Homo sapiens: one gene and its partners. The protein of the gene in region 3 purifies or fractionates together with the protein of the main gene of each other region. This does not show direct contact. Each region holds a gene or a part of one and is shown on either strand. Other genes may lie near its edges.

Region 1 (3,653 bases), on a different chromosome or scaffold from region 3:
ATGTCTTTTATGGCAGTGACTCAAAACCTGCCTTGTTGAACTTGTCCACTTAAAAATGGGCTTAGCATCACAAATTTAGCATGGCTAAAACAGAATTCTTGATTTTTACCTTGTGCGAAATCTGCTTTTCTTGTCTTTGCCACTTCAGTATATGATAACACCAACTACTGAGTTGCTCAAAACCATTTCATAGATTGGGGAGATAATATTTAACCTTTGTTGTGGGAGCAAATACATGAAAAATACTGATTCTTTTTTTTTTTTTTTGAGATGGCATTTTGCTCTTGTTGCCCAGGCTGGAGTGCAATGGTGCGATCTCAGCTCGCCGCAACCTCTGCCTCCCGGGTTCAAGTGATTCTCCTGCCTCAGCCTCCCAAGTAGCTGGGATTACAGGCACACGCCACTAAGACCTGCTAATTTTGTATTTTTAGTAGAGATGGGGTTTCTCCATGTTGGCCAGGCTGGTCTCAAACTCCTGACCTCAGGTGATCAGCCCGCCTCGGCCTCCCAAAGTGCTGGAATTACAGGAGTGAGCCACCGTGCCCGACCTACTGATTGCTTTTAAATGTGTTTTTTTTATGGAAAGATTGGCAGAGCATCTTGAATCCTCTCATATAATGTGCACGCTTTGCTTTTAAATGTGTTTTTTTTTATGGAAAGATTGGCAGAGCATCTTGAATCCTCTCATATAATGTGCACACTTTTATGTCTTGAGCATTGGCTTTTATCCATTTTCAGATGAGTTTATAACTTATAAAAAATAACTTACTATAAAAGTAGATAACAGTAGATAACTTCCTTTTTTACCTGAGCTTCCTAATTTTGGGGCATATAGTACTTCTAGGAATATTGCAGGGGTGTGTGTGTCTGTGTGTGTGTGTGTGTGTGTGTGTGTGTGTGTTTGGGGGAAGTTACAGGATAGATAAGGCAGTATCTTCTTGGTTTGGGATTTTTGTGCTCTTAAAAGATTTCATGACATAAAGATGAAATTAAAACATATATGAATATATTATGGTCTGGACTTGCAAATCACATGAATTTTTAAGAAAAAAAATAGAACCTGCAAAGAAAGTTCAGGTTTGTCTGCCATTTGAGACTCTGACCAGGAATACTTTATAGATAAGCGTTCACTCCTGGCTGCTGGTAGGACCACTTTGGAAGAAGACTTTGAAACACTATGGTTCATTATTTTTTTTTTTAATGAATCTGTCAAACCAGTTGAAATGAATGCTTAGAATTAAGTTTCTCCAAGAAGTTTAAATCTATTCCAGATTATCTTTGTTTAGTTTTCTTGGGTTAGTGTTCATAATCAAGGGAGAACCAGAATGTTCAGAAAGCCAGACTGAGACCAGAGCTCTTTGTAACGAGACTCAAATGATTACCTGCCCATCATTGAAGGGGGCCAGCCCCTCCACACCTGTGGGTATTTCTCATCAGGTAGGACGAGAGACTGAGAAAAGAAATAAGACACAGAGACAAAGTATAAAGAACAGTGGGCCCAGGAGACTGGTGCTCAGCATATGGAGGACCTGCACCGGCACTGGTCTCTGAGTTCCCTCAGTATTTATTGATTACTGTTTTACTATCTCAGCAAGAGGAATGTAGTAGGAGAGCAGGGTGATAGTGGGGAGAAGGTCAGCAAGAAAACATGTGAGCAAAGGAATCTGTGTCACAAATAAGTTCAAGGGAAGGTACTGTGCCCGGATGTGCACGTAGGCCAGATTTATGCTTCTCTCCACCCAAACATCTCATTGGGGTAAAGAGTAACAGAGCAGCATTGCTGCCAACATGTCTCGCCTCCCGCCACAGGGCGGTTTTTCTCCTATTTCAGAACTGAACAAATGTACAGTAGGGTTTTATACCAAGACATTCCATTCCCGGGGCAGGCAGGAGACAGGCCTTCCTCTTATCTCAACTGCAAGGGGCCTTCCCCTTTTACTAATCCTCCTCAGCACAGACCGTTCACGGGTGTCAGGCTGGGGGACGGTCAGATCTTTTCCATCTCATGAGGCCATATCTCAGGCTATCACATAGGGAGAAACCTTGGACAATACCCGGCTTTCCTGTGCAGAGGTCCCTGCGGCTTTCCGCCGTGCATTGTGCCCCTGGTTACTCCAGAATGGAGAATAGTGATGACTTTTATCAAGCATACTGCCTGTAAACATTTTATTAACAAGGCACATCCTGCACAGCCCTAGATCCCTTAAATCTTGATTCCATGCAACACATGTTTCTGTGAGCACAGGATTGGGGCAAAGTTACAGATTAACAGCTCAGGGCAAAGCAATTGTTCAGGGTACAGGTCAAAATGGAGTTTCTTATGTCTTCCTTTTCTACATAGACACAGTAACAGTCTGATCTCTCTTTCTTTTCCCTACAGTCATGAATAGCTATGCATCTATTAATTCTTTGAGAGGTGGGGGCCCCTTTTAAATTAATGAATACTCAGTAGATTCTTTTAAGGCAGACATAGAGTAGCACAAGCATTTTCTCCGAGAAAAGTGGTTTGTGGTGGTTCTGCCTCTTCATTCTCCCTCTACTTACTCTGCTTTCCCTTGACCTAGTCTTCCAGTTCCTAGTGCAGAAGGGTTCTATACTGTAATTACTATTAGGGAAATATTGAAAATGGCTATGAAATGTTTTGAGTCCCACCGTGAAGAGACCATGTAAATCAAGTGATAAGACTACATTTTTCTGTGCTGTTTTTGTTTGTATTTTTAAATTTGTGCTATTTCAAAAAATATTAAATCATTATTTCCTTCTGACAACTTTCCCAACTAGTTGAATGTTAACACTATCTTAATAGCAGTTAATCATTCAACAGACCTTTGTTGAGTACCTGCTAAGTACCAAGCTATCTTCTAGGCACTAAAGGTTTAGTTATGAATGAGAGTAAAGAAGTTCTTGCTCTCATGGAGTTTCCATTCTGATAAGGGAGATAGACAATAAATATGTAAACACGAGTATAATATCAGGTAATATAAATGCTGTGGAGAAAACCAAAGCAGCTTCTCTTTTCTTTCTTCCTCCTGATAAAACAACTACAAACAGTCAACACACCCAGTTAACCCTGAGCAAGCTACCTAATTTCTTCATGCCTTTGTTTTCTTATTTGTAAAGCATATTTACCCAGTTTACCTCACCAAGTTGTGGTATTTTTAAAAAAAGAGATGGAAAAGGGTTGGGGCGGTGAAAGATGCATGTGAAAGCCGTTTGTAAAATATGACTACAGGCCAGGCGCGGTGGCTCACGCCTGTAATCCCAGCACTTTGGGAGGCCGAGGTGGGCAGATCACCTGAGGTCAAGAGTTTGAGACCAGCCTGACCAATGTGGTGAAACCCCGTCTCTCCTAAAAATAGAAAAATGAGCTGGCGTGGTGGCAGGCGCCTGTAGTCCCAGCTACTCGGGAGGCTGAGACAGGAGAATTGCTTGAACCCAGGAGGCAGAGGTTGCAGTGAGCCTAGATGGTGCCACTGTACTCCAGCCTGGGTAACAGAGCGAGACTCCGTCTCAAAAAAAAATGCTATAAATGTAAGGTATTATTATTTGTGCTTGTTTAAATGGAGCCTGGAGTCAAAGATTTGTGTATTTGGTGTATCTCAGTAATTCTGTCTGCATTGTTTGCTGTTTAGATTATAAACTACTTGAGAGTG
Region 2 (3,653 bases), on a different chromosome or scaffold from region 3:
AAGTGCTGGGATTACAGGCATGAGCTACCATGCCCAGCCAAGATCTGTACACTTTATTGTATTAAGTTATAACTCAATAATTAAGTAAATACATGAACATATGTTTTTAAAATGACTAGCAGAAAACATATACAATATATATAACTGTAGATTCACATCTAAAATATGAAGAATTCATATGAATCAATAAGAACAGGGGAGCAACCTAAAAGAAAAATCATAGGCGATTCACAGGAAAGGACGGCTAACGAACATATTAAAAGATGCTCAGGTTCATGAAAATTCAGAAAAATACAATCTAAAACACTGAGATACTACTTTTGACCATCATGTTAACAAAAATTTATATGGTTGGTAATACCAATTGTTTATAAGAAATTGAGGCTGGGCACAGTGGCTCATGCCTATAATCCCAGCACTTTGGGAGGCCGAAACAGAGGATTGCTTGAGGTCAGGAGTTTAGGACCAGCTTGGGCAACATAGCAAGACTCCATCTTTACAAAAATTTTAAAAGTGAAAAAATCAGCCTGGCATGGTGGTGAGCACTTGTAGTCCCAGCTACCTAGGAGGCTAAGGTCAGAGGATCACTTGAGCCCAGCAAGTCAAGGCTGCAGTGAGCCATGATCATGCCACTGCATTCCAGCCTATGCAACAGAATGAGATCCTGTCTCCAAAAAAAAAAAAAAATCCATAAAACCATGTATTAATATGTACACACATATATGTATTATACATCAATGCAGAGAAACAGTTATAAGAAATATAACCCAAACCAATAATACTTGTTAGTTACTTCAAGGAATGCAAGTCAAAATTAGTGGATGGTGGCTTTCACTTTTTATTTTTTTGAGACAGGGTCTTGCTCTGTTGCCCAGGCTGGAGAACAGTGACACAATCATAGCTCACTGCAGCCTTAACCTCCCGGGCTCAATTGATTCTTCTACCTCAGCCTCCCGAGTAGCTGGGACTACAGGTGTACGCTACCCCAGTCGGCTAATTTTTTTTTTTTTTTTTTTGGTAGAAATAGGGTTTACCATGTTGCCCAGGCTGGTCTTGAATTCCTGGGCTCAAGCAATCCAACCCCACCTCGGCCTCCCAAAGTGTTGGGATTACAGGCGTTGAGCCTCTTTCATTTTTACTAGATTACAATTTTCACAATAGAATGTTTTCAGGCCGGGTGCAGTGGATCATGTCTGTAATCCTAGCACTTTGGGAGGCTGAGGCAGGCAGATGGCTTGAGTTCAGGAATTTAAGACAAGCCTGGACAACAGGGCAAAACCCCACCTCTATAAAAACCACGAAAAATTAGCCAGGCATGGTGGCATGCACCTGTAGTTCCAGCTACTTGAGAAGCTGCGGTGGGAGGATCACTTGATCCCAGGAGGTCAAGGCTGCAGTAAGCTACAGTCATGCCACTGCACTCCCACCTGGGTGACAAAGAGAGACTCTGTGTCAAAAAAAAAACAACAAAAAAAAAACAAAACAAAACCCTTAAAAACAACTATTGCTGCTGTTGTTGTTGAGTTATTGCTGTTCTACATCCTAATGGTGTATATGACTTCAAACTATTTTTGAACAGATAAAAGCTAATCATATAATTGAAGGATATTTACTTTTGTTCTCTCTATATATTTTTGGATTTTTTCTTTTTCTTTAAGTCAATAAATTTTTGTTCAAGTAATTCCATGTTGTGATTTCTTCCACTGTCCATCAAGGTCACTTCAGATCCTCTAAAGAGCTGGAGTCAAAAGATTTATCTTCAAGTTAGCCCTTTTTAATGAAACTGATGCTTATTTTAATCCAGCTGTCCTGTTAGCCCATAATTCTTTTATTTTGGCTTCTGTCATCTCCTTTTAATATGGATATACTGATGAAGACTTCAAAATTCACCAAGAATCTTTGGGATCTAACTTCTTCAACCAATTTACTTTAGGGTCCTTTTTACTGTAGGTGGTGGATCTGCCTGGTTCTCAATTTGACACCCTAAGCGATCATACTCAAGAATAGTACAGATGTGTGGAATACGCCAATACCTTTAACTACAGACATCATGTTCTCAAGATAAAAGCCTTTAAAACAAAAAGCCATCGTAGGTATCAAGTCAACATGAAATTGGAATGCAAAATTAATACTGCTGAGGATTTCCTTCATATCCCATGCTGTTTAACTATCTCTTCCACAGTCCTAGAATCAATCTTTTTTAATTAAGAGACAGGGTCTGTCTTTGTTACCCAGGCTGGAGTACAGTGGTGTCATCAAAGCTCAGTGCAGCCTCCAACTCCTGGGCTCAATACTCTTGCCTCAGCCTCCTCTTCCTGAGTAGCTGCAACTACAGACACATGCCCCAATACTCAGCTAATTTTTAAATTTTTGTGGAGATGAGGTGTTTGTTACTTTCTTATACAGGCTGGTCTTGAACTCCTGGCTTCAAGCAATACTCCCACCTTGGTGTGGGGCTTGCAGGCTTGAGCCATTGTGCCTGGTCTGGGACCAACCTTTATGGCTATCAATATTCCCATCAGTTAACTGTCTCAGGTATCATAATATCCCTTCTTATATGTATCAAAACTCATACTGAACAATGAGTTCTGGGTTGCAAAAGAGGATTTATTTTTTGCACCTATCCATAAGTCTTTGTCCACAAGTTAAACAAAAACATACATAAGTGCAGTTGGATTTTCTTTTTTAAACATCTGAGCATTCACTGCTCAGTTTATAAATCACCTTATATATGATGACGTGATCTACTTAAACTTCAAAACATTTCTCAATTACAGAAATGGCAAACCTAAAAGCCCCAAAAGTTTATTTAGATTTCTTTAATCTTTAAACATAGACTTTGTCCAATCTTTTAAAGGTCCTTGATTAAATCAAGACCACATTTATCTATGTCATTGGGAAATCCTTACCTTTAGTTTCTTTAAACAGTCTATATCTTTATCTTTAAACATAAACACTTTTTTTTTCTTTTGAGACAAGAGTCTTGCTCTGTTGCCCAGGCTGGAGTGCAGTGGTGCAATCTCGGCTCACTGCAACCTCCCACTGCTGGGTTCAAATGATTCTCCTGCCTCAGCCTCCCCAGTAGCTGGAACTACAGGTGTGCGCCACTGTGCCCAGCTAATTTTTGTACTTTTAGTAGAGACAGGGTTTCACCATGTTGGCCAGACTTATCTTGAACTCCTGACCTCAGGTGATCTGCCCACCTCAGCCTCCCAAAGTGCTGGGATTACAGGCGTAAGCCACCGCATCTGGCCTAAACATAGACTTTTTGGATAATTTTCCTTACTCAAAGCACTATCTTCTACTAGGATGAAGTTATATAAACCACAAAATAAATTAAAATGGAAAGAACTAGTGCATCCTACCTGGGTTACTGGAATGTAGAGAGGTTCTCCATTATGCAGCAGTGTAAGTTTCCCATGCTGATAGAGCCGTCCTTCCGGCCTTAAATTTGCCATCTCCTTAGGTCCTCCTTTCTTGCCACTCTCTTGTCCATTTCCTTTAAGTTCTTCAGTATCACTTAGGCATTCAAAAAATTCTTCTTCGCTGTCACTCCAGGAATCCCAAGATTTTCCTACCTCTCCCTTTTCCTTATCTGTTTCTTTTAGATTATCTGGCACCAACTGGTCTCCTGCTTTTCCAGCATCCCCTGG
Region 3 (3,653 bases):
TGAACCGCTACTGCAGTGCTTCATGAGCGTGGAGGAAATGGCCCTTCCCATGCCTGCCCAGCTTGCTAGACAGGGAGACAGGGCTGGTGCATGTCACCTCCTGCCTGCAGTGCTGAATGCTGTGTTGGTGTGGGATGGGAGGAAGGGAAATGGACCCATCGCAGCACTAGCTCTTGGGGGCTCTCTGTGACCTTGACTAGCTACTTCCTCTCCTTTTCCTCAGTCTCTCCTCCCAAACCCCCAATATGACAGTTCCTAGAAGATGTAAAGTGCTGTGCACAAGCAGACAATGTGACCGCTAACGGGAAGACTTGGTTCTTCCCGGACAATGGTTTTCCTACCTGAGTGTACTAGGAACTACCTACAGTGACTGTTAAAAATGCTGATTGCTGGCCCCATCCCAGAGACGGAATAAGGATTCCTTATGTGTGAGGTGGGGCCTAGGAAGCTGCATTTTCTGCATCTTTGACAAGACACCCACCCACCCCACCAGCCCCTTTCAAAAATTCTGACACAGGTGGGTGTTCTTAAGGCGCACAGAGCAGGGCTTGTCACACCATTATCTCCTGAAAAGCTGCTTAAAACAAGAGTCTGGGATTCGGTAGTGTTGGGATCAGTCTGAAAATGTGCATTTCCAAGCTCCCAGATGATGCTGATGGTAGCACTCAGGTACCATCAGCTTTGAGGAAGGCTGTTCTAAACAGTGTTGAAAACCTAAATAATTTAAGGTTGCAGGGGTTGGAATTAAGAAAGTTTACTCTTGACCATAAGAAGGCCTCATATTCAAGTGGCATTGGGGTGAATCCAGATTGGAAAAAACAACATCTGAATCTCTATCCCTTTGTTTCCTGGTGTCTGATAACTCCTTGGTACGGTGAAGCTTCAGAGGCCCAGAACCAACACTTCTCTCCATTCCTGCATCCTCCAAGGGTCCTGTCAACTGCTTTCCAGGGCTGGGGGTCCTTTTCTGGTCTTCAGACTCCCCCAGGACTGAATCTCCCCTGCCCAGCCTGAATTACAGCCCTTCACCCAGACAGATACACCTGGCCCCCAGCTGAGGCAATGTCCCTAAACACCACCTTGCAAGGTGGCCCTATGCATTAAACCTGTCATTCCACTTAACAATTAATTCTAAGGAAATCATCTGAAATGCAGATCTGTTACTTTATCCTTCCTTCTGTCTGACCCAAGGTGTTAGAGGCAGGGTTATTTATAATTGCAAAGACAGGGAGGCAGGGAACCAGTTAACGAAACAGTAATACAGGTACAAAATGAAATATCAAGTGGCCACTAGGAATGATATTCTCAAGGGGTATCTAATAACATAAGAAAAGTAGATGAAGGGAATGGAAATAATGGAATATAAAACATACAGACATTATGACAACTATTTACAACACATAATCTCTGTGTGTTATGTGTAAAAAATGATGGGAAGAAAACACATTTTAATTTTAACAGTGGTCTCTCTGAGTCTGGCCACCCTAGGCTTCTACTTTTTATATTTCCCAAATATTACTTTTACAAGAAAAAAATTCAACTATTTAATTTTTTTAACAAAACACACAGCTTTCTCCTCTTTTGAGGCTCATACCTACCTGATTCTGGCCCATCCCATGACAGAGGTACAGAATGACCTGGTGTCCCACAATCTGGTTTTCATCGGGAGGGTTATAGTCAAAGCAGTAGTCTGTTAGTCCTTTGTTCTGGAGCTAAATAAAACATAAATGTGGCATTTCAGTCCAGATTTATAGACACTAACAGATGCCACACAAGGCTTGGGGAGGGTACCTGGCATGAGAGGAGAGCCTGCTTCAAGAGCTAGACGCAAAGGTAAGAGTCTTTTCTGTACAGCACCTTCTAGCTTTAAAAGTGCTTCCTTGTTCTGCAGGCAAGAATCCTTACCCCTATTTTAAGTTGATAAGCCTGAGGACCAGAGAGATAAACTCTTCATGGCCTGAAAGCTCCTCTCTCTTTCTTTCTCATTAGTAGCAGCCTTACTGCTGTGCAAGTCCAAATATACCTGGGTTGATACCTCGAACTAGATTAATTAAGCTAACTAAATCAAGCAGGCGATAGACACAAAGAAAGAATTATTTTAGGCTGGGTTCAGTGGCTCATGCCTGTGATCCCAGCACTTTGGGAGACGGAGGCAGGTGGATCACTTGAGGCCAGGAGTTCTAGACCAGCCTGGCCAACACGGCAAAACCGCATCTCTACTAAAAATACAAAACTTAGCCAGGTGTGGTGGGGTGCACCTGTAGTACCAGCTACTTGGGAGACTGAGGCGGGAGAATCACTTGAACCCAGAAGACGGAGGTTGCAGTGAGCTGAGATCATGCCACTGCACTCCAGCCTGGGCAATAAGGCAAGACTCTGTCCTCCCCACCACCAAAAAAAAAAAAAGAATTAATTTAAATCACTTTAGAGCATGGTATGTTTGAAAATACCACCTATGAAATATATTCTATAAACAAACTGAGCTGCAAAGAAATTATAAACCTCATTCAGTATAATACTCTAAGCTGTAGTACTGTATTAATTATCTTGAAACTATTTTCAATATATTTTAGGATAAAGAAAATAAGTAATTATGTTAATATTGTTTAAAACCAAGATTTTCAGGGTAAGAAAAAAGAAATATGAGTATGCTATCAAAGAAAATTTTTCAAGACTACATTGGATTTTCAGATATTAATATAAGCTCATGATCTGTTTCTCAAAAATACGAATTTCCTTTCTCTGCCCAATGAGAAAAATTTAGAGCTGTGCTATTTCATGTGGCGGCCACTGGCCACTGTGGCTACTGGACACTTGAAATGTAACTAATCCAAATTGAGATATGCTATAAGTATAAAATTCACACCAGATTTCAAGGCTTAGTATGAAAAAAGAATGTAAAATGCCTCAATGAATAAATACTTATATTAATTATATGTTGAAATGATATTATTTGGGATATACTGAGTTAAACATTTCATTAACTTTACTTTTTTTTTAATATGGTTACTAAAAAAATTTAAGTTACAACGGTGGCTCTCATTATATTTCTGTTAAACTGCATGGTCTGGAGGCAATGACAACGCATAGCAACGGGCACCGCCAGCATCCAGACTGACTCCCAATACCGTTACCCAACAAAGGAGCAGGGCTTCTGGGAGGAATGGCAGGAAATGTTTAAAACTCGAATGGGACAACTTGGCCAGAATCAAGGAGGCTATCAACGCCACTGTAAGGTGTCAAAGACCTCAGAAGCCAAAATAAAGGGACTCCCACTGGCCAAAAACAATTTTCATATATTTTTTAAAAAGATGAATTGGGCTGGGCACAGTGGCTCATACCTGTAATCCCAGCACTTTGGGAGGCCTTGGCAGGAGAAATGCTTGAGCTCAGGAGTTCAAGACCAGCCTGGGCAACATAGCGAGACCTTAGTCTTTACTAAAAATAAAAATAAAAAATTAGCCAGGTGTGGTGGTGCTCACCTGTAGTCCCAGCTACTTAAGAAGCTGAGGTGGGAGGATCACTTGAGCCCAGTGATCCAGGCTACAGTGAGCTACAATGGTGCCACTGTGCTCCAGCCTGGGTGACAGAATAGAAGCCTGTCTCAAAAAACAATACAAAGAAGAAAAGATGAATTGATTGAAGCACACCGG

Evidence for each region.
Region 1: the proteins of GALNT12 (region 3) and OBI1 purify together in Homo sapiens (affinity purification with mass spectrometry; one large-scale study listed by BioGRID and IntAct). This does not show direct contact.
Region 2: the proteins of GALNT12 (region 3) and RAB3GAP1 purify together in Homo sapiens (affinity purification with mass spectrometry; one large-scale study listed by BioGRID and IntAct). This does not show direct contact.

The regions. Positions count from the first base shown.
Region 1 is NC_000013.11:78,645,528-78,649,180, reverse strand, and holds part of OBI1 (ORC ubiquitin ligase 1), read left to right. Parts: intron 1-3,653. UniProt on the Homo sapiens protein: E3 ubiquitin ligase essential for DNA replication origin activation during S phase.
Region 2 is NC_000002.12:135,135,645-135,139,297, reverse strand, and holds part of RAB3GAP1 (rab3 GTPase-activating protein catalytic subunit), read right to left. Parts: coding exon 3,366-3,653; intron 2,671-3,365; exon of another isoform or gene 2,543-2,670; intron 1-2,542. UniProt on the Homo sapiens protein: Catalytic subunit of the Rab3 GTPase-activating (Rab3GAP) complex composed of RAB3GAP1 and RAB3GAP2, which has GTPase-activating protein (GAP) activity towards various Rab3 subfamily members (RAB3A, RAB3B, RAB3C and RAB3D), RAB5A and RAB43, and guanine nucleotide exchange factor (GEF) activity towards RAB18.
Region 3 is NC_000009.12:98,842,155-98,845,807, reverse strand, and holds part of GALNT12 (polypeptide N-acetylgalactosaminyltransferase 12), read right to left. Parts: intron 1,713-3,653; coding exon 1,599-1,712; intron 1-1,598. UniProt on the Homo sapiens protein: Catalyzes the initial reaction in O-linked oligosaccharide biosynthesis, the transfer of an N-acetyl-D-galactosamine residue to a serine or threonine residue on the protein receptor.